Linked DNA regions of Homo sapiens: all the other regions are linked to region 5. The links come from fine-mapping of genetic effects on gene expression. A gene starts in region 5. Each other region holds a variant in brackets. All regions are shown on one strand. Distances are from middle to middle. Region 1 overlaps PDE8B (phosphodiesterase 8B). Region 2 overlaps WDR41 (WD repeat domain 41). Region 3 has its middle 60 kb from the start of WDR41. Region 4 has its middle 65 kb from the start of WDR41. Region 5 holds the start of WDR41 (WD repeat domain 41). Region 6 overlaps WDR41 (WD repeat domain 41). Region 7 has its middle 36 kb from the start of OTP-AS1.

Evidence for each region.
Region 1: its variant is fine-mapped to the expression of WDR41 in esophagus mucosa (GTEx, PIP above 0.99). The same link has a PIP of 0.9 or more in fibroblasts, lung, nasal epithelium, pancreas, stomach and sun-exposed skin.
Region 2: its variant is fine-mapped to the expression of WDR41 in whole blood (INTERVAL, PIP above 0.99).
Region 3: its variant is fine-mapped to the expression of WDR41 in whole blood (INTERVAL, PIP above 0.99). The same link has a PIP of 0.9 or more in anterior cingulate cortex, fibroblasts, lymphoblastoid cells, tibial nerve and vagina.
Region 4: its variant is fine-mapped to the expression of WDR41 in testis (GTEx, PIP above 0.99).
Region 6: its variant is fine-mapped to the expression of WDR41 in whole blood (TOPMed, PIP 0.99).
Region 7: its variant is fine-mapped to the expression of WDR41 in anterior cingulate cortex (GTEx, PIP 0.96).

The regions. Positions count from the first base shown.
Region 1 is chr5:77,425,129-77,429,628 of GRCh38, forward strand. It overlaps PDE8B (phosphodiesterase 8B), which reads left to right. Exons shown (of 22, transcript NM_003719.5): 21 at 639-768; 22 at 1,317-3,128. The coding sequence ends at 1,426. Among named protein-coding and RNA genes, the nearest start is that of WDR41, 65 kb to the right of the region's middle. The variant A/G (reference allele first, on the strand shown) is at 1,863.
Region 2 is chr5:77,461,052-77,465,051 of GRCh38, forward strand. It overlaps WDR41 (WD repeat domain 41), which reads right to left. Exons shown (of 13, transcript NM_018268.4): 3 at 3,710-3,758; 4 at 2,044-2,175. Among named protein-coding and RNA genes, the nearest start is that of WDR41, 29 kb to the right of the region's middle. The variant A/G (reference allele first, on the strand shown) is at 1,674.
Region 3 is chr5:77,549,988-77,553,987 of GRCh38, forward strand. It overlaps a transcript of WDR41 not described here. Among named protein-coding and RNA genes, the nearest start is that of WDR41, 60 kb to the left of the region's middle. The variant A/C (reference allele first, on the strand shown) is at 1,687.
Region 4 is chr5:77,555,637-77,559,636 of GRCh38, forward strand. It overlaps a transcript of WDR41 not described here. Among named protein-coding and RNA genes, the nearest start is that of WDR41, 65 kb to the left of the region's middle. The variant A/G (reference allele first, on the strand shown) is at 1,708.
Region 5 is chr5:77,489,942-77,493,941 of GRCh38, forward strand. WDR41 (WD repeat domain 41) reads right to left here and starts at 2,375. Exons shown (of 13, transcript NM_018268.4): 1 at 2,229-2,375. The coding sequence starts at 2,279. RefSeq lists an enhancer at 1,837-2,760 and silencers at 1,881-2,100, 2,541-2,680.
Region 6 is chr5:77,449,142-77,453,141 of GRCh38, forward strand. WDR41 (WD repeat domain 41) reads right to left here. Exons shown (of 13, transcript NM_018268.4): 7 at 2,150-2,212; 8 at 619-729. Among named protein-coding and RNA genes, the nearest start is that of WDR41, 41 kb to the right of the region's middle. The variant G/A (reference allele first, on the strand shown) is at 1,529.
Region 7 is chr5:77,592,123-77,596,122 of GRCh38, forward strand. It overlaps a transcript of WDR41 not described here. Among named protein-coding and RNA genes, the nearest start is that of OTP-AS1, 36 kb to the right of the region's middle. The variant A/G (reference allele first, on the strand shown) is at 2,216.

The DNA of each region.
Region 1 (4,500 bases), 65 kb before region 5:
TCAGTAGTTTTGGTATGAGAATTTGTGTTTGTATGACATTGAACAGAGCTTTGACTTTGCAATGATAAAAGCAGATCCCAGAAAAGGGGCTAAGTACCCTGAGATCAATGTGTCAGGAGATGCTATGGTATCACATAGAAAGAGGCTTGGGGCCAGGCACAGTGGCTCGTGCCTATAATCCCAGCACTTTGGGAGGCCAAGGGAGGCAGATCATCTGAGGTCAGGAGTTCAAGACTGGCTTGGCCAATATGGTGAAACCCCTTCTCTACTAAAAATTAGCTGGACGTGGTGACAGGTGCCTGTATTCCCAGCTACTCAGGAGGCTGAGGCAGAAGAATTGCTTGAACCTGGGAGGCGGAGGTTGCAGTGAACCGAGACTGCACCACTGTACTACAGCTTGGGCAACAGAGTGAGACACTGTCTCAAAAACAAAAAAAGAGGCTTGAGAGTGGGAAGGTCTGAGTGTAGTCAGTGTAGCTCAGCTGACTTACGTAAGTCTGAGGACCTTGCTGAGCCTATTTCTTCATTGAGAAAACTGGATAATGACCCATTTTCACAGGGTTGTTCTGAGAAACAGGATATTACTGTGAAAGTGTCTCGCATGTCCTCCAGCCCTATGTGGTGGTTTTTTCTTACAGACTGATGAAGAGAAGAGACAGGGACTACCTGTGGTGATGCCAGTGTTTGACCGGAATACCTGTAGCATCCCCAAGTCTCAGATCTCTTTCATTGACTACTTCATAACAGACATGTTTGATGCTTGGGATGGTAAGACAGTTACTGTTTTGTCACCCAAAGAAAATTGTTATACTTTACGAATATTATCTTTAGTGACACAGGGTGAGCCTAAAGGTAAACAAAATATATTTTTAAAAATGTGGCTGTCAGCTTTTTGTGGCCAAGTGGGGTGGGGTGCATTCTTTGCATCCCCAGCAGCTGGCACAGAAGCTTGTGTGCAGAAGACTTGATGGATTTTTGATAGCTGGATAAACGAGTCTCTGCCTCTTCAAAGGACACGCTGCCAAAGCTTACTGCAGTGTTTTTCTGTCGTTGGAGGAAAACTCTAGAAAGAATGCAAAATGTATTTAGTTTACTCTGAATCACAGGTTCTTCTGATAATGTCACTGATAAGCAGCTTTTCAAAAAGGACCTGTTTGCATTTCAGAAACTAGTGTTTAATGACTTGTCCTCATGCTTCGCCCAGGGTGTGCCTCCTCTAATTCTGATCCCAAACTTGTCCCAGACACCCCCAGGCTTATAAATGCTCCTGGGGTCTAAGTTCACCGGTTTCTTTTGATTCTTTTCTGTCTTTGCAGCCTTTGCACATCTGCCAGCCCTGATGCAACATTTGGCTGACAACTACAAACACTGGAAGACACTAGATGACCTAAAGTGCAAAAGTTTGAGGCTTCCATCTGACAGCTAAAGCCAAGCCACAGAGGGGGCCTCTTGACCGACAAAGGACACTGTGAATCACAGTAGCGTAAACGAGAGGCCTTCCTTTCTAATGACAATGACAGGTATTGGTGAAGGAGCTAATGTTTAATATTTGACCTTGAATCATTCAAGTCCCCAAATTTCATTCTTAGAAAGTTATGTTCCATGAAGAAAAATATATGTTCTTTTGAATACTTAATGACAGAACAAATACTTGGCAAACTCCTTTGCTCTGCTGTCATCCTGTGTACCCTTGTCAATCCATGGAGCTGGTTCACTGTAACTAGCAGGCCACAGGAAGCAAAGCCTTGGTGCCTGTGAGCTCATCTCCCAGGATGGTGACTAAGTAGCTTAGCTAGTGATCAGCTCATCCTTTACCATAAAAGTCATCATTGCTGTTTAGCTTGACTGTTTTCCTCAAGAAC[A/G]TCGATCTGAAGGATTCATAAGGAGCTTATCTGAACAGATTTATCTAAGAAAAAAAAAAAACGACATAAAATAAGTGAAACAACTAGGACCAAATTACAGATAAACTAGTTAGCTTCACAGCCTCTATGGCTACATGGTTCTTCTGGCCGATGGTATGACACCTAAGTTAGAACACAGCCTTGGCTGGTGGGTGCCCTCTCTAGACTGGTATCAGCAGCCTGTGTAACCCCTTTCCTGTAAAAGGGGTTCATCTTAACAAAGTCATCCATGATGAGGGAAAAAGTGGCATTTCATTTTTGGGGAATCCATGAGCTTCCTTTATTTCTGGCTCACAGAGGCAGCCACGAGGCACTACACCAAGTATTATATAAAAGCCATTAAATTTGAATGCCCTTGGACAAGCTTTTCTTAAAAAAAAAAAAAAAAAGTTTATATACATGTTTAAAATTTTTATTAAAATCCAAATTTTCTGGGTGTAAGCCCATGCAGTATGTTGTGCCATGCACCATCTATACGTAATATTTTGGGAGGGGATAGGGGAAGTTTCAAGGTTCAGATATTTTTAACCAGTCTATATTTGAAATCATGCCATTAGCTTTAACAATGTTAAAATTGTGTGGTGTAAATATATCAGAAAATAGGCATATGGGGAGGCAGTAAATACTATTTTAAGCTATTAATTGTATGCTAAAAGCTTCTAAAGCACAAGTGCATATTTTTATACTGCTCTTTTCACAACTCCCTGTGATCTACATAAAGTCAGACTCGAGATTTTCCTTTCTCTTTTACCAGCTGATCCTTCCTATGTATTATAAATATTAGACTCCGTAAACAAACTTCATTTTTCTTTCTCTGTACTTCATGCTGCATTTTTAAAAGGTATAAACAAACAGAGACTGAATTAATTGAATCAGTAATTACTTTTTTCCAATACAAATTGGAATGCAGAATACTTGGAACTTGTACATGGGGAAAAAATGACTTATCACTACATAATGTGCCAATGTTTTTTTCTATGTTTTGTACCAAAAATGGAAAAATATGACAATTCCATGCAAAGAAATGTATCTAAATTATTTTTGTTAGATGATAAGAGAACTTGCTTGGTCAGGACAGCAGCCAGCTTTGTATTGTAATGCTATATTATGTAAATGTGATGAAAATGTTTTTGTGAAGTACTTGTAACTAAATTCCTACAGCCATTTTTCACTCCCAACAGCTGTTTTTATTTTACCTCTTTGGCCTAAAGTTTTCATAATTTCAAATTTGGGGTTTAGTGTCCTTTATTTCATGAGTCACACACTTTGTTTTCAGAGCACATTAAAATCAGGATGCCAGAATCCCATATTAAGGACCTAGCTAACTTGCCTAGGCTTCAGAAGCTTGCTTGAGGCAAGGACAATCTTTTTCTGATCATCTCACTTTCAGTTCTATTTGGTAAGTAACATTTATCAGGTGTCAGACATCTTCTATATGAAATATTTACAGCTTACTCAGTTTTATGTCAAATTTCTTGTTAACTTCAAACTTTTTATTAGTAATGTGCAAATGTTTAAAAATGCTTTAAGACAGCTAGGTACTAAAGCGTCAACAATTTCTGCTCTTTACCAGTGTAATCTACGGTATAATCTTCTGGCCTGCGAACTAGTCTATTCTTCCACATAGTCAACTTGTTAGAAATACAGGCTTTCAGATGATATGTGTATCAGATAGTTTATATTATATAAACTATTATAACTGCCTCTTACACAGAGTTGTTTACTTAAATGTCATGTGCTGAGGAGGGCCGTATTAGGAAAATGCAACACTCTCTAATAATTTCCGTGACTAGTAAGAGAAGGAAGCCAGTTATAAAACACTGCTGGACCAGAATGACCCTATAATTTCCTAAGATCATTCTTTATTTCTAATTTAAGATTTTTAAATTTACTTGCCCTCCATGTCAGGACTGGTTAGCATTCTGGGCAAAAAAAAAACAAGCCTGTCAGTTCACTCAGAACCTACTCAGCTTTAGAGAGAGAAACAGAAGGGATGATCTTGTGCCCTTGCGCTATGTGAATATAGCCAGAGACTGAGGTAATAAATATATTTTAAAATAAAAATGACAAGGGATTTGTACACTGTAACACTATGTAGTGTTACTTCTGCTGTTGCAAGTATCTTAACTGTTGAAAGCTAAACTCAGGAAATGGAGAAAATGTACATAATATACATTGACCCATTATTTTATTCTAAATTGAAAGTCCAACTTTTAGCAGCAGTCTACCTGCAACTACTGAACACCATCAGGTTTGAGTCCCTACCAGAATCTCCCATCATACTGTTATCCCCCATCTCTGTGACCTTAGGGCATGCATGAAAACAAAAGCAATCTAGTCCCTAGGGTTGGAGACTGCCCTCTAGACAGTTTTTCATGGCAGAAAATTAGAATACAAGTATACCTCATTTTATTGCATTCTGCTTCATTGTGCTTCAAAGATACTGCCTTTTCTACAAATTGAGGGCTTGTGGCCACCCTGCATAGAGCAAGTCTATCGGGGCATTTTCCCAGCATGGGCTCACTTTGTGTAAGTGTCACATTTTGGTAACTCTTAGAGTATTTCAAATGTTTTTATTCTTGTATCTGTCATGGTGGTC
Region 2 (4,000 bases), 29 kb before region 5:
CAGCTACTAACTTCTGTATGTAATTTTAATCACTGCCTCAAAATATTGCTATAGTGTCTTAGGAGTGGTCTAATAGAGTATTTTAAATTCTATTTTTGCAAAGATTACACTGATACTGAAAAAGAGAGCTTTATCCCATATTTGCCTCTACAGAGTAGTAATAAAGCAACTCTGACCTAACCATCTGAGAGAATTTTATGCCCTTGTTTACATTGTATCATAATCACACACAAACATACATATATGTGTGTATGTATATATGTATGTATGTATAGAGAGTTTATCCCCATTTAAACCTTTTCTTGACATTTTTTCAGCTATGAACAATCTGTCTAGAAAGCACTTCAGTTGATGAACTCATTTAAAGCATGTTCAAGTCTGTATCTTGGTTCTGTAAGAGCCTAAGAAACACCTATACTTTTGGGCTTACTCCAAAACTTCACCAATGCTTGAAAGTGTTTACACAGAACTTTCAGATAAGCATATACTTTTAAAAATTAATATGACCGGAAACAGTGGCTCATGCCAGTAATCCCAGCACTTTGGGATGCCAAGGCGGGCAGATCACGAAGTCAGGAGTTCGAGGCCAGCCTGGCCAATATGGTGAAACCCCGTCTCTACTAAAAATACAAAAAAATTAGCCGGACGTGGTGGCAGGCGCCTGTAGTCCCAGCTACTTGGGTGGCTGAGGCAGAAGAATCACTTGAACCTGGGAGGTGGAGGCTGCAGTGAGCCGAGATTGTGCTACTGCACTCCAGCTTGGGCAACAGTGAGATTCTGTCTAAAAAAAAAAAAAAATTAATCTGACAACCTCTTTTAAAAAAATAAAAGTAATGAAAGACAACAGTTATCCATAGCACTTGACTCTGGACTTCACCAAGCCAATTCCTCATACAGATATTAAAGGGCTGAGTTTGTTTACAGAAAACATTTTATGAAGTGCAGTGGTTCGGGGCTCTGACTCTGCAGTCAGACTTGCCAGTTCTGCCCTACACTGGCTGTGTGCCTTGGGAAAGTTACTTAGCCTCTGTGTGACTCTATTTTTTTCATCTGTAAATAAGAATAATTAAAAATAAGGCCGGGCGCAGTGGCTCATGCCTATAATCCCAGCATTGTGGGAGGCCAGGGTGGGTGGATCACCTAAGGTCAGGAGTTCGAGACCAGCCTGACCAACAGAGTGAAACCCCATCTCTACTAAAAATACAAAATTAGCTGGGCGTGGTGGCACAGGCCTGTAATCCCAGCTACTCGGGAGTCTGAAGCAGGAGAATCGCTTGAACCCAGGAGGCAGAGGTTGCAGTGAGTAAAGATCACGCCATTGCACTCCAGCCTGGGCAATAAGAGTGAAACTCCGTCTCAAAAAAAAAAAAAAAAAAGAATTAAAAATACCTATGTCAAAGGGCTAATTTTAAAGATTAAATGAGTTAATATATGTAAAACAATTAGAACAATGCCTGTTACACATAAGCACTTTACTACTGCTATCCCATCTTAACTTTTTACCTAAAAGTATGGGTAAAGAAAAAGTAATTTTACTTTTATAAAATTGTTTTTAATTATTAAATATTACACACTGAACAAACAGTAATTCACTTTTCTATCAGACTCAGATGCTCCAAAGATTTTTATGGGTTGGGACCATTTGGTTTCTTCTGCTGTATAGTGGGGAAAAA[A/G]AATGTAAATTATTCTCCAGTCCAACTCATCGTTGTTTCCCTAAATTGAAAAGCAAACTGAGATAGTAAAATAAATTATTTTTAAGTCCACATTTTCCCATTTCATCAATTTTATACAACCTGATAGAGTAACTCTGGAAAGAACAGCAATAGTCACGGAGTTTCCATCAATAACAAGCCTTAACCTCCTATTTCCAGTCTAATACTTTTCAGATACCTAATAAATGGTATCTTATAAGTAACAGAACAAAAATCATTTTTGCTATAACAAGAATATACAGACAAGACCCTATCAGCTAAAGACTAATAGTGTATGTAGTGGCTCCTTAGGCCACTACAGCTTGTTCATTTCTTCCAGATTAAAGGATACAATAACTGTTCTATCAGCAGAGGCTGTCAAGATGAGTTGATTTTTCTCTTCACAAGATTCCAAGGAAGGAAATGTAATAATAGCTGTTATCTTTTGAGTGTGTCCATTCAGTTCTAAAAGTTTTTCCCCTGTCTGAAATACCAATAAAAATGTTAATAGGCTTAGCTTTCACAATTTAGATAATCATAAATGACTACATTAAGTACAACTACCATATAGAAGATACATATACATTCCATTTAAAATTACTTATTCAGAATTTAACTTAAGCAATCACACAGAATCTAAACAAGCACTGAAAGTACAGCCATAACTATAGTTTTATTTTCTAAAACAAAATGCTAATTTTTAGTATATTTTTATAGAAAATTTTGAGTATTTTTTTCTATAAATTTAAAAATATAATTGTGTAAATTAAGCATAAAAACATCAGTAACTTAGTTTGCAGGAAAAAAATATGGAGTCCTCATTGTCCAAGTATTTGTTATTTAAGTCTCCACAGTTATAAGGTCATAGAAGAAAATAAAAGTCACCATAACAACTGTATATGTACCTACACACAAATAAGTATATATATCCACTCATTTATTAACCACTTAGAAAGTCAGTCTCCACTCCATCGTTATTTAACACCAACATCTATTCCTACCCATCCAGTGTCTTCATCCATCAGTCTCTGACTAATTTACCAAGTAGTAAACATGCAAAAATACAATGTAAATGGCAAATCTTTCCAAGATTGCAGGACTTCGTGAATGTGGTGAAAATAATGTTAAAGAACTGATTTTATCACAGGCAAAGCCATTGAAAAATAAAGATCTGACACAGTCAGACTAGATAACAATCCAAAATTAAGGTGAGAGGAAGATACTTCAAAAAAGAATAATTTGAGTAACAAATGATCAGGAAGGGAGGCTCTGAAGAAACTGGTGAAGCCTTAAGTATTTATTTAAAAAAAAAAGGCTTTTGTAATATTAAGTCAAACATGAGAAAAATGTTACATTATGCTATTACGCAATGTTGAAAGAAAACTTGTGTGTCTCACAAAAATCAACACAATTCATTTATTCATTTTGGAAGTCAGGGCATAGCTAGTGATAACCTAAATTTTGTTAAATAAGATTAAAATTTTGTATTTTTTGAATTTTCATACTTTGGCATTTGTTTCTTAGGAAAAAACTTTTTTTTTTTTTTTTTTTTTTTGAGACAGTCTTGCTGTGTCACCCAGGCTGGAGTGCAGTGGCATGTTCTCGGCTCACTGCAACCTCAGTCTCCCGAGTAACTGGGATTACAGGCATGTGCCACTATGCCCAGCTGATTTCTAGTATTTTTAGTAGAGACGGGGTCTTGCTATGTTGGCCAAGCTGTTCTCAAACTCCTGGCCCCAAGTTATCCGTTCGCCTTGGCCTCCCAAAGTCCTGGGATTACAGGCACGAGCCACCACACCCAGCTGGAAAAAAAATCTCAATTTAAAAAAACTTTCCCTCTTCATTATGAAATACTGGTCCCCACTGTATATGGATTTATCCTAATTAGCTCTTTTCAAATATTAATGTGTCAATTAACAGTGATATGTAAATGTATCCCCAGATAGTATTTATATGAATACATACTCAACTACATCATCATATCTTTATCACACAATCCACACATAATCAATACACACCTGGGCATTCCACACAACTACAATTCCATCATCACCAGCAGATGCAAATCTGGTTAGGGAGAAAGGGTCAAGAAAAAAAAATCACTGGTGACATTTAATTACTAAGATTAAGAACTATCAAACCTTATTAGTGGTATTTTGACTAATATTAACGAAGATCAAGTTATTTCAGCTAATTTAAAAAATATTTATGAAACACATTCCAGCTTCTGTACCAGGTATGGAAGATCAAAAGATAAATAAGACATTTATAAGTTTACAAAGAATAAACTGCTAGAAATGTAAAAATAA
Region 3 (4,000 bases), 60 kb after region 5:
ATGGATAAAGGACTGTATTCAGCAAATGGTGCTGAGATAGCTGGCTAGCCATAACCAGAAGAAAAAAAAAGGACCTCGACATTTCACCATATATAAAAATTAACTCAAGGTGGATTAAAGATTGAAATCTAAGACCTCAAACTATAAGAATCCTCAAAGAAAACCCAGGAAATACCATTCTGGACATTGGCCTTGGGAAAGAATTTGTGACTAAATTCTCAAAAGTAATTGCAGCATAAACAAAAATTGACAAGTGTGATCTCATTAAACTAAATAGTTTCGGCACAGCAAAAAAAATGATCAACAGATTTAATAGACAACTTACAAAATGGGAGAAAATATTTGCAAACTATTCATCCAACAAAGGTCTAATATCCAGAATCCATAAGTAACTTCAACAATTCAACCAGCAAAAAACCAAACATTCCCTTTAAAAGATAGGCAAAAGACATGAACAGACACTTCCCAAAAGAAGACAAAAAAGTGGCCAACAAACATAATGGGAAAATGCTCAACAGAGAAATGCAAATCAAATCCATGATGAGATACCATCTGACACTAGTCAAAATGGCTATTGTTAAAAAGCCAAAAATAACAGATGCTGGCAAGCCTGTGGAGAAAAGAGAATGCTTATACACTGTTGGTGGGAATGTACGAATTAGTTTAATCACTGTGGAATGCAGTTTGGAGATTTCACATAAAACTGAAAACAGAACTGCCATTTGACCCAGAAATCCCATTACTGAATTATAACCAAAGACAAATAAATCATTCTACCAAAAAGACACATGTACTCATATGTTCATCACAGCACTACTCATAATAGCAAAGACATGGAGTCAATCTAGATGCCCATCAATGTTGGCCTGCATAAAGAAAATATAGTACATGTATACCATGGAATACTATGCAGCCATATAAAGGAATAAAGTCATGTCCTTACCTAAGCAAATTAATGCAGGAACAGAAAACCAAATACCACAGGTTCTCACTTATAAGTGGGAGCTAAGCATTGGGTAAACATGACATAAAAACGGGAACAATAGACACTGGGGCCTCCTAGAGGAAGGAGAGAGAGAGGGGAGTAAGGGCTGAAAAGTACTAGGCTATTGAGTACTAGGCTCACTACCTGGGTGACAGGATCATTTGTACCCGAAACCTCAGCATCATGCTATGTACTCACGTAACAATCCTGCACAGTACCCTGTGAATTGAAAATAAAATCTGAAATTATAAAATAAAATTTCAGAAAGAAAGAATAAAATAAAATAAAATGTCCTAAGGATTTTGTATGTTTAAGAAGGGGGCAAAAATATTAATTCATGTTAGATTTTGATAAATGATATTCAAAAGCTAATTTTAGAATGACTAACAAAGTAAAAATAATATAGCATAAAATTTCCTTACTAGCTGGGTGTGGTGGCTCATGCCTGTAATCCCAGCACTTTGGGAGGCTGAGGCAGGAAGATCACCTGAGGTCAGGAGTTTGAGGCCAGCCCGGCCAACATAGCGAAACCCTGTCGCTACTAAAAACACAAGAATTAGCCTGGTGTGGTGGTGCTCACCTGTAATCCCAGCTACTTGGGAGGCTGAGGAATGAGAATTGCTTGAACCCAGGAGGTAGAGGCTGAAGTGAGCTGAGATTGCACCACTGCACTCCAGCCTGGGTGACAGAGTGAGACTCTG[A/C]CTCAAAAAATAAAAAAATAAAGCCTGGGCGAGGTGGCTGTTGACTGTAGTACCAGCACTTTGGGAGGCCGAGGTGGGTGGATCACCTGAGGTCAGGAGTTTGAGACCAGCCTGGCCAACATGGTGAAACCCCTTCTCTACTAAAAATACAAAAACTAACTGGGTGTGGTGGCACGAGCCTGTAATCCCAGCTACTTGGGAGGCTAGAGGCATGAGAATCGCTTGAACTAGGGAGGCGGAGGTTGCAGCGAGCCGAGATCGTGCCACTGCACTCCAGCCTGGGCAACAGAGCAAGACTCTGTCTCAAAAAATAAAATAAAATAAAATAAAATAAAATAAAATAAAATAAAATAAAATAAAATAAAATAAAATAAAATAAAATAAAATAAAATCTCCTAACTAGTAGGGGAAAAATTGAATGAGAAAAAAAATGCAATTGATGCAGGGGAGGACAAGAAAGACCATAGAAAAGGTAGGGCAAATACAAACCACTAAATAAAATTGTCAAAATAAATCTAAATATATTAGTAATTTAAATAAATATAAAGACACATAAAAATCAATTATAGTAACAGTGAACATGCGGAAGCTGACATTAAAAACACAGGGCAATTTACAATAACTCCAAGGAAAATGAAATACTTATGCATTTACTTAACATGTGCAAGATCTATATGCTACAAATTACAAAATGCTGATTTTGTGAAAGTCAAAGAAGACTTAAATAAATGAAGAGATATATCATGTTTATGAACTGGAAGACTCAGTTTAGTAATGCTGTCAATTCTCCCCAAATTGGTCTATAGTTTAGTGTAACTCCTATCAAAATCCCAGCAATATTTTTTTCATAGACCGAGGCAAGCTTATGCTAAAATATATATGAAAAGGCACAGGCCCTGAATAGCTAGAGCAATCTTGATAGAGAAGAAAGACAAAGAAATGGGAGAAACTACTCTACCCATATTAAGCCTGGCTATATAATTACTGTAATCAAGAGAGTGTGGTGTGGGCAGAGGGGTAGACACATGAATCAACGGAGCAGCACAGGATACCCAGAAATAGATTCACACAGTCTGCCACACTGACTTGACAAAGGTGCAAAACCAATTTAAAGGAGGAGGAATAACCTTTTCAACAAATGATGCTGGAACAATTGCATATCCATATGGGGAAAAAAACCCTAGATCTAAATTTCATGCTTTATATAAAAAATGAGCTTAAATTGGATCACAGGCTTAAATGTAAAACAAACCTATAAGACTTTCAGCAAAACACATGGAAGAAAGTTGTCAGGATCTGGCGCTAAGCCAGTAGTTGCCAGACTTGACACCAACTGCATGATCCATAAAAAGAAAAACTGATGAATTGGACCTCCCTGAAATTAGAAATGTTTGTTCTGTGAAAGCCATATAAAGAGGATGAAAAGGAAAACTACACACTCAGGAGAAAATATTTGCAAGTCATATGCCTTAGTCCTTTTTTGCTGCTATAACAAAATACCTCAAACTGGGTAATTTATAAAGAACAGACATTTATTTTTCACAGCTCTGGAGGATGGGAAGTCCAAGATTTAATCACCAGCATTTGGTATCTGGTGAGGCCCCCATCTCCACTTTCAACCAAGATGGAGCCCTGTTGCTGCATCCTCTTGAGGGGACAAATGCTGTGTTCTCAAATAGCTGAAGGGATGTAAAGGGCAAAAAGGGCCTAAGCTAGTTCCCTCCAGCTAGGCACCAATTCATTCATGAGAGCAGAATCCCCCTGATTTAATCACTTCCCCAAAAGACCCCACCTCTCAATACCATCATAATGGGGATTAAGTTTCAACACATGAATTTTGGAGGGAATGCCATCTTTCAAATCATAGCACCAAATATCTAGCAAAGAACTTACACATTTTAAATTCTAGAATATGTAAAGAACTCTCAAAACTCAACATTAAAAAAATCTATTAAATGAACAAAAGACATAAACAGACATTTACCAAAGATGATAAAAATAAGCACATGAAAAGATATTCAATATCATAAGCTGTTAGGAAACTTTAAATTAAAACTACAATGAGATACCACTACACACATATCAACATGACTAAGATTTTAAAAAATAACACCACCAAATGCTGGCAAGGATGCAGAGAAACTGGTTCACTCATACATTACTGGTGGGAATGTAAAATGGTAAGCCACTCTGGAAAAGAGTTTAACAGTTGTTTAAAATGTTAAACTTGCAACTACCATACAACCCAATAATTGCACTTCTGGACATTTATGCCAGAGGAATGAAAGTTATTTTAACATAAAAACCCAAATAA
Region 4 (4,000 bases), 66 kb after region 5:
TTACAACAGCATCCGAAAATATAAAGTGCCTAGAAATGAATCTAACAAACAATGGGTAAGATCCTTATGAAGAAATTATAAAATTTTATTGAAAGAGATAAAAAGACTAAATAAATGAAGTATAAATCTTATCCTCATGGATTGGAAGACAAATTCATAAAGATGTAAAGATTCAATACTATTTCAATCAAAATCCTAACAAGGTTTCTTTGTGGAAACTAACAAGCTGATTCTAAAATTCATATGGAAAGAAAAGAGCCAAGAATTAAACACTACTGAAGAAGAAAAACAGAAGGAAGAGACTTGCCTTACCAGATATCAGGTGTTTTATAAAGCTGGAGCAATTAACACAGTGGCATTTGCACAGAAATAGCAAAAATAACCAACAGTTGAAAACAGAGAACCCAGAACCCAGAAACAGGTTTGATTTTTGACAAAGGTGGTGGGGAAAAGATGGACTTTTTTTTTTTTTTTTTTTTTTTTTTTGAGATGGAGTCTCTCTCTGTTGCCAGGCTGAAGTGCAGTGGTGCGATCTCGGCCCGCTGCAACCTCCGACTCCCGGGTTCAAGCAATTCTCCTGCCTCAGCCTGCCGAAATAGCTGGGATTATAGGCCCATGCCACCACGCCCAGCTAATTTTTGTATTTTTAGTAGACATGGGGTTTCACCATGTTGGCTAGGCTGGTCTAGAACTCCTGACCTCAAGTAATCCACCCACCTTGGCCTCCCAAAGCGCTGGGATTACAGGCGTGAGCCGTTGCACCCGACTGACTGACTGTTTGTTTGTTTTGAGGTGGAGTCTCGCTCTACTGCGCAGGCCAGAGTGCAGTGGCATGATGTCGGCTCATTGCAACCTCTGCCTCCTGGGTTCAAGCAATTCTCCTACGTGTAGCCCCCAAGTAGCTGGGATTACAGGCACGCGCCACCACACCCAGCTAATTTCTGTATTGTTTGTGGAGTTTTAAATTTAATATCACTAAGACAGCTGGTTATTCATGTGGGGAAAAAAGTGAAATTGGGTCTTATTTTTGTGGTTGCCCCATGAAAGGTGAGCTCAATGCCCCCATCCAAAACTGGTTCAGATATCAAGATTGTTGATACCACATTTACAACAAGAAGGTATTTTAAAAGTTTATTACACACAATGAGGCTTTCTGGTCAGAACAGGACAGGCATCCAAGCCAGTTCTAAATGGCTTGAGGGAGGGAGAGAAAAGGGTCTTTGATTTTTAATGTGGTCAGTGATAGGGCCAGTATGAGGGATGATTTGAACTTCTCCTTGGCACCAAGGGAGGGGGCACCTGGGGTTTCTAATCAGCTTTGCCAGATGCTGGGCAAGAGGGAAAGGGGGAGGGGTGGAGCCTGAAAGCTGTTGGTAGTCAAACATCAAAAATGGAATTAGATTATTTATTACAGATCCCTTTTACACACATAAACAAAAAATTCCTTGTGGATTAGGAGTTATATTAAAAGCAAAAGTATGAAACTTTTAAAAGACAAAATTGAAGAATATCTTTATGATCTCAAGGTAGTGAAAGATTTACTAGACATAGCACAGAAAGTACTAACCATAAAGAAAAAGTGATAAATTTAACTCTAGTATATTAAAGTTAAAAACTTCTGTTTAAAAGCAAAACAAAACAAAAAACCATTAAGAGAATAAATAAGTAAACCACACTCTGGGAGAAGTGATTTGTTACACCCTAAAA[A/G]TGAGCCCCCAAAATTGTACCCAGAATATACAAAGACCTACTATAAGTCACCAGAGAAACACACACAATCCAATAGAGAATGGACAGAAGACTTGAGCAAGCATTTCACAAAGAGGTGGCAGAAGTAACCAAAAGTATAAAAAGATAAAAGATGCTCACAGTAAGATGACATTTCACATCTGTAAAGCTTGCAAAAATTAAAAATTCTGACAATATTAAATGTTAGCGTGAGCCACTAGAACACTTGTACACTTCTCATGGCAGTAGGAATCAGTATAGTCGCTTTGAAAAAGCAGTCTGGCATTAATTGCTTAGTGGATTTGAAGGCATGCAATTCCACTCCTAGGCACGTACCTACAGAAACTCTTGCACATATACACCAAAATACATGTGTAGTAATACTCAGAGTATAGTGACACTATTCATAATAGAGAACAATGAAAACAGCCCAAATGTTTACCAACAGTAGAATGAATAAACTGTGGCATATTCATACAATGGACTATTAGGTGAGAGTTAAAAGTAATGACTTATAGTAGAAGCAATGAAGTTACAAAAGAATGTATACGGTATGATTATCTTTATATAAAGGCCAAAAACATGCAAAATTAAACAACATATTGTTTAGAAGAAAAAATGTGGCAATGCAGTGAGTAAGAACAAGCAAATAAAAACCCCACGTCAGTGTAATGATTACCTTTAAGTAGGGAGGGAAGAAATGAACACATAGGGAACTTCAAATGTTCTTTTTAAAAAAAAAAAAAAAAAAAAAACAAAACAGGAGTAGGTATGTAGGTAATCGTTAAAATGCGATTCTTCAAATGTTAATATATTTTAAATTAATATTTAACTTTAAAAAACAATTTGTATAAAGAAAAATCATTGCTCTTGAATTCTCTTTCTGTTTAGGAAAGGAAAATTTACCATTGTGACATTTTTAGTGTCTTATGAGCTTTTCCTTGTGCATGAGTAAAAATCTAAGAAAAATAGAAAAGGAAATTGAAAAAGAATATTCTTACATATGTGCCAGGCAACAGCAGACAGCCCACCTTTCCCAGGGAGTCTGGCTACACAAAGGCCTATGGAGGCAGAGCAGATTGCCGCATTCACCAAAAGAGCCTCGCTGACCTGCACCGAATTCCCCAGAGGACTGGGCCCTACTTATTTTTACATCATTAGCCCTCTTGGGGCAGGCTGAGGTCATTTCCAATTTGAAAACGACCTTGGATCACAAGCTGAAGTTTTCCATTTGTTTACGCTATTAAACATCCTGAGATATGATTAATAAGTCTTCTGCATAGAGAAATAAGTTTATTTCTAACAAACATGGTCCTTGACATGTTTCTACTATTTATGTTATTGCAGTGAGTTCATTCCACAAACTAATTTTCCAGCACTTTCTAATCTTAGCATTGTTTGGCAGTCTCTTAAACTCAGCAATAAGTTGTCTGATAAACCAATATGCAAGACATGAATTGTTTAGAAAATTATGAATATGTGATTACTTTCATCCTTTCAAAATAATAAAGTCATTGAAAAAATATTTTTTTTCTGTATTTTCCAAATTATCTATTACACTAAGGGAAAAAAACCTTAATTTTTAAAGCTTAACAAGAAATTGTGGGCTAAGATTCCTTAGGGAATCAAATATACATTTCACTTCTTGTAAAAGGGTCTATGAAAGCTGTTATTACTCTTTTAGGAGAGCTCAAGAATAAATAACAGACACATGTATTGAGTTGCTCTGTGTGTATTAAAGACAGTGGTACGCTGGTAAATAGTTAACAACCAGCTATATAGAGAGGGAAATAGCCTTGACTTGATTTGTAGCATTTGCCAATTTCTGTCATGTAAACACTCCCACTGTGGCCAATTTCAAGCTACCAATTTGATATCACTAAATGTCGAGTTGGGGAGAAATGTACCACACAGATACAAAAGATAGATGTAAATAATCTTAAGAGTATAGATGTTAAAATGCAGCACCATAATTAGAAAGTGATGTTTTTGAGCAGTTATTACATTAATATAAATTTTAAATTACAAGTTTATATAATTTGATTGTTAATAATTACTGTGTTTAACAACAGGCTGGCAAAATTCTTGAAGCTGCTTTAGCAAGGCACTAATTAGACCGTACTGGTGGTAATGTACTACCCAATCCAGTACAACAATTAGTAGATGACAGAATTCAATATATGGACATGATTTTTATATAATGTTGTTATATAAATATAATGTTGATGTATACATAACATATCTATAATTTGTTATATGTCAGCATTATATATAA
Region 5 (4,000 bases):
ATGTGGCAGAAACAAAACTGCAAATCAAAGACATAAAATAGTGAAACAGTGCCTCATCCATTACAAGCACTCAATACATGCTTGCTAAATGAATAAATGAAGGCATGAAATCAACTCTGGATTTCTCAAACTTGATGCTGACATTTTGGGCTAGAGAATTTTTTTTTTTCGCACCACACGCCCAACTAATTTTTGTATTTTTAGTAGAGACAGGTTTTCACCACGTTGGCGAGACTGGTCTTGAATTCCTGACCTCAAGTGATTCGCCCGCCTCGGCCTCCCAAAGTGCTGGGATTACAGGAGTAAGCCACCGCGCCCAGCCCAGATAATTCTTTGTTGTTGAGAACTGTCCTGTGCATTACAGGACATTGAGCAGCATCCCTGGTCTATACACATTAGATGCCAATAGAACTGCCCCTCTGCAAGGCATGACAATCAAAAATGTCTCCAGACATTGCCAAATGTCTCCTGCGGGGCAAAAATCACCCCAGTTGAGAACCACTGCTTAAACGAGAAGCCTGGATACAAAGTTATTGCATAAATTAGGGACAATCATAGGTTCCGATAATGTACAAATTCACAGCAGTTATACAACTCAATTAGATTTATATGAAGAAATATATAAATTTAAAACATGCATAAATGTTTTCCAAAAAAAAAACCACCACCACAAAGCATTGATTTTGTATTTATTCTGTCTTCCTTCTAGAAGAGATTGTGGTGAGAAATTTGAAAACTATATAAACTGCTTCTCCTCCAATGAAAACTTGCCAGGAATGGGAGACCTGGTTAAGCAAATAACATGATTAACCAAAGAACCAGGTTAAAACAGAATTATCCAAAATGTCGTATATACCATATATGGCTATTCAATAATCCACAATCTCAAGGATTTAGGATTAATCTGAAATAAGAAATTTTTAAAAACAGACAATACCGTCAACTGCAAAGACATGCGGAAGTTAAAATTGAGAAGACTGCCTACTCTCAACAATCCAATTTCTTACTTTTAACAATCTAAACAAATACTTCTTATGAGAAATAAAATGCAATTCACAAATTCTGTTCTTGTCAGGCCTCTGAGCCCAAGCTAAGCCATCGCATCCCCGGTGACTTGCACATATACGCCCAGATGGCCTGAAATAACTGAAGAATCACAAAAGAAGTGAAAATGCCCTGCCCCGCCTTAACTGATGACATTCCACCACAAAAGTGAAAATGGCCGGTCCTCGCCTTAAGTGATGACATTACCTTGTAAAAGTCCTTTTCCTGGCTCATCCTGGCTCAAAAAGCTCCCCTGAGCACCTTGCCCCACTCCTGCCCGCCAGAGAACAACTCCCCTTTGACTGTAATTTTCCTTTACCTACCCAAATCCTATAAAACGGCCCCACCCCTATCTCCCTTCGCTGACTCTCTTTTCGGACTCAGCCCGCCTGCACCCAGGTGATTAAAAGCTTTTATTGCTCACACAAAGCCTGTTTGGTGGTCTCTTCACACGGACGCGCATGAAAGTTCTTGTGTGGCATACGAAATAAATTTGGGACCTCAAAATTTCCAAGACTGCAAAAATTATTTTATTCACATTTCAAATGTAAATTTCATTACACACGGTCTATTCAATTATTCGGGCCCATGAAGAAAGTGTGACTATGAAACCAAAAACAGCAGTTAATTAGAAAATCATGTTCTTGACCTTGAAGCAGATTACTTTTTAAAAATAATTATATCCTTTTTCGGTTGTTGGATAAGTAAATTAATTTTATATTCCCTGACCAAGTATCAGTAGACGCCAGGAAGAGACACCAATTCAAATAAACCAAAAGTGGAAAGCTGCGGTCACAACTCGTTCGTTTCTAGCTAAATCGTATACTTTTTAAGTGGAAATGAAGATAGTTTCGGTAGCCAGAAGCCCTAAGTTGTCACAGGTCCCAATAGGACTGCTGACCAGCTGAGCGTCCCTGAGCCAGGATCTCACGATTCAGCTAGCCGTGGGACGGGGCCGGGGGTCTGCAGCTCCAGGGTGCGCCTGGGGTCCCGCCGGGTCTGAGGAGCTCCGGCTCCCGCGCCCTCCGCCCCCACCGTCGTGAGAACAGCGCGTGGCACGAGCTCAGCAGCCAGCCCCGCCTCCGCCCGGGTCCCCGCGGTCGGAACCCAGGAAGGCCGAACCGGAACGAAGCCGCCCCTCCAGCAAGCTCGACGGACGCAGAGCAGACCCACCCGGGGTTTACCTCGGCCAGTCCCTGCGGTTCTCGGCCTCCCCCGATCAGCCATCGCAACATCCGGGCAGCGGCGGCGTCTTGCCCGGTCCAGCCCCAGTCAGCCCAAACTCCGCCCCAGGCTCGGCCTCCTCCTTCCTCCCCGGCTGCAGCGCAACTGAGACGCTAATACTTCCCGCCCCAGATCAGCCCACGGGCCGAAGGAATGCAGACCACAGTTGAGGGAGAATTTTTGTCCCCAAAGCGCTCCCGTACCCAGCCACGGAGGCTTAGTTTGGGCAGTCGCTTGGGGTGCGGCGGCCGACGGCGGGGGCGGCTGCGGCGATTGCGGGGCGCGCGCTGCTCCGAGTGAGCACGCGCGGGAGCGCCGCCGGGTAGCGCACGGAGCTTAGGTAGCTCGAGCGGCCCCTGGTGGACGCGCGCGGAGCAGCAACCCGACCCCGGCGAGCAAGCGCGCACGAAGAATAATGCCCCTCCCTGTGACATGGCTTTAGTATCCTCCACTTCCTAGGGTACCAGGAAATCTCCCCTGCTTTCCCAAGAGCTTGCTGAAGAAGGTGTACCGCAGTAGACTTCTGCATCCAGACAAATCCAGTGGCTCATGTGTACAGCCGAATAAATCCGGCCAACATTTACTGTGTGCTATAGTACAGCTACTGTGCTAAGGCTTTACATAAATCCTCATGGTAAACCTATATCCTCTATTTTACACATCAAGAAACTAAAGCTCTGAATGATTAGGTAATTTGTCTAAAGATAACAGCTAGGAAGTGGCTACATTGGTAGTGTTCTTGACCGTATGCTATATTAACATAGAATCTCCCTAAAGAATAGAAGGCAGTTCATATACCTTTTTTTGACTACTACATTTTCTTAGGTAGTCAAAGGGCTGTGGTTATCTATGCTGACTGCATATCAGAATTACCTGGGTAGCTTTTGAAAATGTAGATTCCTGGCTTCCACCTCAGACTCATTAAAATAATCTTTGTGGTTGGGACGTAGGAATCGGGGTTTTGGGAAGGCTCCTCAGGTGATTCTGATGAGTAGCAAGGTCTGAAAATCACTGGTCTAGGAACTACTTATACATATCATGTTTGCAAAAGTATAAATATATATATTTGCATATGTATTAGGTTCAAATAATCCTCCTAGCAGTAAATTGTTGTAGGGAATCTACAAATGTCCCAACTAATGCATTAATTCAGCAAACATGTATTGGACACAGATGCACTAGAGAAGCAGAAAGGAATCACATAAAATGCTGCTCTGGAGGGACAAGGCATAATGTCCCAGTCACCAATAAGAGAGAGCCATACATCCCACTTTAAGCTAAGTTGGTTGTGAGCAGCTACACAAACTTACAGTCCCTCTGGAACTCGGATCTCCTATAATTCATCTTTGTATTCCTTTTGAGTGCACTCGGCAAGAACACACTCCCAAGGATCAGGAGCATGTTGCCTTCTGTGTGCTAGCCCCAAATTGCAGTCTGCATACAGTTGAAGACAGACCAAAACAGAGACTATCCCCTGGGAAAGAGGGACTTATCTTTAAGTAAAACAAAACTCAGAGACATCAGGAGTTCAGTTCTGGAAGGAATATCTTCACGTGAGACAATGTGGTTGCCCAAATAGCCTACATTTTATTCTTCTGATTATCCACATTCTTTAGGGTTTGCCCCATGCTCTTTAGGGTTTGCCCAATGCCACATTACTCTGATGTAAGGGACATTCTGCTGATGCTTTAAAGCACTGGTCCAGGGTTGAACACTTCCTCCCTTGGTTCCT
Region 6 (4,000 bases), 41 kb before region 5:
GATCTTGCCATCTGATGTCAGATTTAGCTCACAGGAGATACTCATTAAAATCATTTAGGAAGCCAAATAGGATGTACAGCAGGTCAAAACCCCCACCACGAGGAAGGAAGGGAAGACATGACCCATTTTCTGCAGACTTTTACTTTAGTTTGGTATTATTCTTTGAGAGTCTTCAACCAGGATTACAACTGGCTTGAATCCTGCTCATTCTAGTGTAAGTGTGTAACTTGCTATGTGATATTGTATGGTGTGGACAGCAAGACAAAAGGGCATATTTCCAATCTCTCTACAAAAGAGGAACTAGCCAGAAACAGCTGCCAAAAATGCTGAAACAGCCTGTGACAGTCATCCCACAGCTACCAAGCAGTGCCTGAGATCATTATGTTCTCCTCTATTTTCTCTGCCTTACACTATTTTCCTTGTCCCTAAATCTTAGACCTAGCAATCTAGGAAACTTGCTCAGCTCCACCGGCTAAAACTTCAGAGTAAAAGAGAATGACAATCCCATTATTTTAGTGACTTATTCTAGAATCCCAGAACTAAGCAAGGCTCGTGTTCAGAGCAGGTTGTGTTAACAAGCACAAAACTGTACATAATAAATGTACACAATGAGCTTACCATTGACATTAATCAATGAGAGAATATTATCCTGGTGATCAAGGAGGCGCTTAACTTCAAGAATATCCCATTCTAGTGATCCTTCTGTGGGTGCTACCAACCTGAAAATTACTAAATGAAAAAGACAGATAAAATTTTATTACAATGCTCTAAGAGGATAAAATACTACTCCTGCTCTAAAAACAAGCATTTCATTAAGTGAAAAATACCTACCATACTGAAAAACCCATCTCCAAAAAAAAGCCTTATTCATACTACTTTAAACTATTTCTTTCAAATGCTTGAGATGTTTGAGATGATCTACTAAAACCCATACTGAATGTGTCCTGAAGAACTCTCTTCCTTTACTGACTTTTCCAAACAGTGAAGCTCCCATTCTCTCTAGGGTTTCAACGGATGTCTTGTTATCTCAACTCACTCCCTCCCTAATCAGTGACTAGCCCACATCCCTCAATCACCTCCAACATCAGCTTTCTCTACTCATGTCTCTTACTCATGTAAGCATTGCGACAGAATAAGCTGCAAATCCAAGTTTAACTTCAACTCAGTGAAGACATAAGCAACTTCTTTTTTAAAAAGCTTCTGATTCCTAGGCATATACCATTAAATTATAAATTCTCTGAGTATGTCTTATAATGTTTATATATCATACAGTTCTTCTGACTATAGTAATGTTCAATGTGTTGCTTTACTCATTATCTGACTTTAACAAATACAGTTTTATTTAAACTAGTATAAATCCTAACTTTAATCAATACAGAAAACCCATAATAAAATCCACAGACGTGATTCTATCATCATTTACTAAACATTTATGTTCCAGGAACTCTACGTACCAAATGTGAATAAGGCCCAGTCACAAATGCTCAGTCTAGAGTGGGAGAGAGACTTGTTTATAAACAGGCTTACC[G/A]TCAATGTACTGAGTGTTTTAAAAATACACCACTGGACCAGGTGCTGTGGATGCTCAAAGATTAGCATCACTAACATCTGAGAAGTGACAAGTCTCTGAGATCATGTCCTTTTCAAATTACGAAAGTATCTTTTCTTTCTCACATTTCTCTCTAGAAGATAGGTCATGCCATGCTTCTTTCTGTGTCTCTGACAATATTTTACCAAACTACAAATCTCTATCCAGGTTATTTAATCCTGACAGCTACTCATATTCAAACTGTGGTTGTCAAAAGAAGGTTTTTCAGTCAATAGAAAAGAGAACTCTTTCTGATACACATTGAACTTATGGGAAATTCTACTTTAGTTGGAATATTATGAAGTGATCTTGAGACTGGAATTTTGGAATAACAAGCAATAAACTGTTTAACCAAGCTAACATACTGATTAAAACACTGATAAGAAAAAGAAACCTGGCCTAACATCCTGAAAATGTCTTAGTCTCTGTATCACTTCAACAATCCCAAGAAGCCAAGAGTGGGGCACACGCAATGTCCCTTAAATAAAAAATTACTTTAGTCCTTCCAGCATGTGTATACAATTCTCGTTCAAAATACACAAAAAGAAAAAAATTCATACTCACTCAGTTCTTTGCCAACTGCTGCCACAACACAGTTCTTAGGTATTTCAACCAAAGCACTAATACCTCCAAAAACATATAAAACAAAGTTCAAATTATTTTTCTCACAGATTATATCAAAAACAAAAACATTCTCAGTTTTATGTCAGTCGTTTTCCATAAAGAAGATAAAGCACACAGAACTAGCTCCACACACACTTCCTTGCTTGCTTACTAATGGAAAATGATTGTTAAATGTAGGTTTCTGAGACTTTTGGAAGACATTATTGATTTATTAAGAGCAGAATATGGGGTTGGGTTTTTTTGTACTTTTTTTTACTATTGTGATAAAGTGGTAGATTCAGCAATTCACACTTATTTACCAGGGATCCCTTAAGATAATCACCATCACCCATTTACAAGATGGCTAGCTCAAAAGTGATGTAAAATTGGGGTTTTCCTTCATGTAAACTTTAGAAGCCTGAGCAGGCTCCCTGGCATTGAATGAACTAGCCAACAGTCAGCAGCTAAGAAAGCAGCCTTCAAATAGCATGTTTGTGATCCACTAATACATGTAAAATTTTTCTTCTATTAATGAAAGAATCAGATTCAACATTCTAACACACTTCACTTATTTAAGTAAAGAGGTTAATGATTTTAGCGTAACTATAACTTCTACAAGGCATGTTACAATTTTGCTTCTGTCAGTATGAATAAAAGAGTTGATAAATTAGAACCACCACGTGTTGGCAAAAAAAAAAACCTGTTTAATTTTTCCATTATGATATATATGTAATTTATAATATATATGCAAGTGTAGAAAACGGTCTAGTCATTTGCTTATCCTTCCCATCCATCAAAGGACTGACTGTTGTGATTTGGATAGTATTTCTGGCCAAGATTTTTCTCCACATAGGCATATTTTAACAGTAGGTTTTGTATTTTCCCATGTACAAGAAGGAGGAAATGGTGCTGCAAGGAAGGCAAAGGAATGGTACAGAGAAGGCAGAGGACATGGGAGAACAGCAGGGTGGATAGCAAGAGAAGAATTCTAAATGCAGAAAACAGCTTGTTTAAAAATCTTTCACTAAATTATATGTGAAAATACTAGAAGCCCAACAATCCAGATGTAGCAACCTAATACTCAGAATCACAAAACATATTACTGGAAAGGACACGGATGCCCTGTGTTTTAGTCCAGGGCTCCTTCCATTGTATCACATTGACTAAGATTGTCTTTGCTTATTTCCAAACACAGAATAACTGCTTGTAAAAGCTCCACCAGTCCATAAATCAAGCAGGGCTTATGAAAGGACATCATGACATAAGGATCTAATAACACTATTAACAATCTGGCCTCCAGTAATTTGGAAAACCCAAATGATGAACAGCTCACCAATAGTAACCCATGGCCTTCTCAAGGCTTTCCCATAGATACCCTCAAAGCCTTCTGTTAACTCTTGAGACACTGATAAATGGCAGTATTGTAATGATTTAATATATAGTACTTAAACATAACTTGCAAAACAAAGGGAGACTGCAATAAGAGGTGGCTATTTCCAGGAACACACAGAAGATTCTTTTCAGCCCCAATTTCAACATTTTACAATATAACTTTACCAAAATAAAATTCATGAAAACCACAGGCTAGTGAAAGAGAGAGAAAAATGAACATAAAGACACATAATTCATGATAATAGTAAACAGGGAAATATATTCTAGATTTGAGCAAGACTATTAGTAATCAAATGTTGAACTGAGTGGTTAAATTGTAAACCCTAGCAATGTATGGATTTAGTTTTCCTAAGTCATTATGTTTCTGATACTTTAAAATATCTACGTGGAGCTAAGCTAGCTCCTATTAGTAACTAAATT
Region 7 (4,000 bases), 100 kb after region 5:
TCTACTTTATCTGGTATTACTGTCACCAGGTTTCTTGTGTATTACATTTACTTGAAATATCTTTCCTTATCCTTTTATTTTCAGTCTTTCATGTCCCTGTACTTAAGGTATGGCACTATAAGCAGCATATAGTTAGATTTTTTTAAATTGAGTCTGATAGTTTATCTTTCAATTATTTATTCAACTTACATTTAGTGTAACTATGATAATATCTGGGTCTAAATCTCCCATATTAATTTATATTTCCTACTTGTGTTATTTGTTCTTTGTTCCTTATTTTTCTTTCTTGCCTTGTTTTAGATAGTCAAGAATTTATTATTATTCAAATTTCTCTGTCTGTGGACTTATTATTTGTGTCGGCAGATCTCCAGACCACCCTCAGGTTTGATGATTCCTTAGAAGAACTCAGAACTTGGAAAAGCTGTTATACTCACCATTACAGTTTATGACTGCAAAAGTATACAAATTAAAATCAGCAAAAGAAAAGGGCAACAGAGGTGTCCAAGAGAAACCAGGATCAATCTTTCAGTTTGGAAAAGAGGAAACCAGGATTCCTCTTTCAGTGTAGTTGGAATAACACCACTTAATTCTCCCAGCAATGATGTTTTCAATGCATGCAAAGTACTGCTAACATGAGAAAAAACAGAGAAGCTCACCTGAGCCTTGTTGTCCAGTGTTTTTATTGGAGAGTCAGTCACATAGGTATGGAGAACCCTTGTGATTGACCTTAGCTAATCAGTTTCCAGTCCCTCCACCTCAGAGGTCAAACTAATGTGGTATGGCCAGGGCCACAGGTGAACAAAAACAGGTGTTCACCATAAATCACATTGCTAGCAATAAACTAACTGTCATGACCCACATTCCCAGGTAAGGGACCTAAAGGAATTGAAAGAACAAATCACATGAATATCAGAAAGAAGAGAGTCCCAGGCAGAGGAAACACCAGGAGCAAAAGCCCTGAGGTGGGGACATGCTCAGAGAGTTGAAAAACAGCCAGGAGAACAGTGGGTAGAGTGCAGTGAGGCAGAGAGTATTAGAAATAAGGTTCCAGAGGTAGGCAGGTGCCAGATTACACAATACAAAGTAATGACTTTGTATTTTACTCTAAGGATGATCAGAGCCTTTGGAGAGTTTTCAGCAGAGGAATGTTGTATCTGAATTGCCATGAGTGACAGAGGCAGAGACAGAGAGAGAGAGAGGGAAAGAGAGTGAGATTTATTTGGTTACAGAAATTATAGACTATAAGCAGCAAGAGTGGAAAAGAGGAAACCAAGTAATAAACTATGGCAGCATTACAAAAGACAGATGATGGTAGCTTTGATTGTGTCCAGCAACAGGAGAATGATTAAATGAATTACAGTAAATCCATATAATGGAATATGATACAGTCATTATAAATAATATAAAATAATACATAAGAACACAAGAAAATGTTTATAATATAGTAAATGTAAACAAAGCAGTTATAAAAATAAACTATTATCTGAGTCACAAAGTTCATTCATCCATGTATAATATGGTGCTAGTTTATAAAAATATTATAGGCATAGAATATTAAAGCTGGAAGAGACTTAGAATGCACCTAACCCACCAGGAACAGAAGGATTACGTGACTTAAGTGATGGAGCAAGGCCTAGAATACAGATCTGATTTTCAGTCTAATGCTCATTCTATTTCACCCATGGTCTCTCTTTTATGTTAGATTTCATAAGTGCTTATACTCCTGCTAATTGGCATTCAAACAGACAATTAGAGCTAACAGAAAGTCTATTTTATTCATAAGTTATATTAAATCTTCTTAAATCTAGATTTTTAAAATTAATCTATAGTAGACTGAAGCCCTGTCCAAATAAGAAAGGGGGCAGGACTACCTCAAAATAAGAGATAGATACGTAGATAGATAGATGATAGATACATAGATAGATATAATTTTCAGGAGTCTTCACATAAATCAAGTCATTGAAAATAAATGATGAGTTCATGTCCTTTGTAGGGACATGGATGAAGCTGGAAACCATCATTCTCAGCAAACTATCGCAAGGACAAAAAACCAAACACCGCATGTTCTCACTCACAGGTGGGAATTGAACAATGAGAACACTTGGACACAGGAAGGGGAACATCACACACCGGGGCCTGTTGTGGGGTGGGGGGAGGGGGGAGGGATAGCATTAGGAGATATACCTAATGTAAATGACGAGTTAATGGGTGCAGC[A/G]CACCAACATAGCACATGTATACATATGTAACAAACCTGCACATTGTGCACATGTACCCTAGAACTTAGAGTATAATAAAAAATGTATATATAAAAAATAAAAAAGAAATAAAAAAAGAAAATAAATAATTAAATACATCTTGGCATACATTATAAAAATGTCTGTGATCCATGATTTTTAAAATTTCTAACAATGGTATACAGAATTTATCAAGGAAATAACATGCTTGGGCAGCAAAATACTGTTTCTATGACACCAGTAACCATTTCTTCTTTGAATCTGCAGGTTTCCCTGGCTATGATTTTAGATCAACAGGCTAGAAGTCTACTTCTAGAAACCAAACAGCCCAACCTTCTCCTTTCTATGGTAACGTAACAGAGCCCTTCACTGTCTGAGCTACAGGGGAAAAAAAGCTGTTTTTAATTAACCATTAATTATTTGAATGCAGCCTGCATTATGCGGAAAAATGTGTTACTTTCATCTTAATTTAAAAGACAACATCTGAGGTTCCAACTGACAAGAAGATACACTTTATAAATGCATTTATATCACTATTCTCCTTCAGAGCATTAGAAAATAGATTCATGGGCTTGGATAAAGAAGACGTCTGTGGTTCTGCAGGGTCTGAAATAGTAAGAAAGGTGAAAGATGAGGAAACGAGGGTTTATCCCCAAAGCTTTTTACAGAGGAGAGAAAACATTTTTTAATTTGAGAGCCTTCTGATTACTGTAAGTAGCTATCTGAATATTGAAAAGTAAAATTCAGATGAGATCTTACTGACTGCTAACAAAATCGATTTGAAATTTAAGGTCTTCTTCGTGCTTCATTTGCTATAAAGTCTTTAAAGGTATTTGAATCTGTGTACTAAATTAGATCAAACAGAAAATAGAAAAGATTTGTCACAGGTATAGAGTGCGTGACCAATAAGATCAAGTTCAACTATAAGAATGTTTATGAATATGGGGGAGAGTTGCCTCAATATTTTTATAATTTTATGTACGTTATTTTTCACGTCTTAAAGCTGCCCAAGTATAGAAAAATGCAGGACTCCAGTAACAGTTACCAGCATGATTTGCTTTTATTACCCTTCTGTTCAAGACCCTTGTTTCCCCTTGTAGCATGTCAAATTGCCCCCAAAACCACATTATACAGCAGAGAAATGTTGTTCACACTTCACTGGCTATTGATTTACTTTGTTTATTGGCACAAAATCAGCTTGAGATAAACATTTTGTCCCGCATTTCCACTATTGTAAGTGGTTATACTTCATTGCAAGATAGGTAAGCCCAAATGTGCAGGGTCACAATTCGACATGGCTTTCTAATCAATGTGTGCAAAATTATCTAATGAATAATGGGTTGCACATTTCCACAAACAAATTAACCAGGGTGAGACTGAAACTAATGATTATATTTATCTAATGTAATTTCACATCTGTTACTAGTGGTAGTAATTTTTTTTTCTCTTTCATCCGTGGCGTCCTCAAAATTACAACTTAGCTTTTCAGATACAGTTATGGAACATCAGTTTAACTAGAAAATAGACAATTTTGTGGAATGTTTATTTTTTTCTTTAAATGCCAGTGGTCCTGAGCAATATGATGCTATTTTATGAAATTTGGGAATCCAGACGTTTCTTAACTATTACCTCTGTTGTTTTCTAAGTACTGGCTGTGGGCTTAATGCCATAACCTATTGGTCAAATTCCATCATTCAGTCTCATAAAAAACAAAATGACTCCATTTTACCACTGTAAGACCATCCTTAATTTTGCCTGTCTTTACA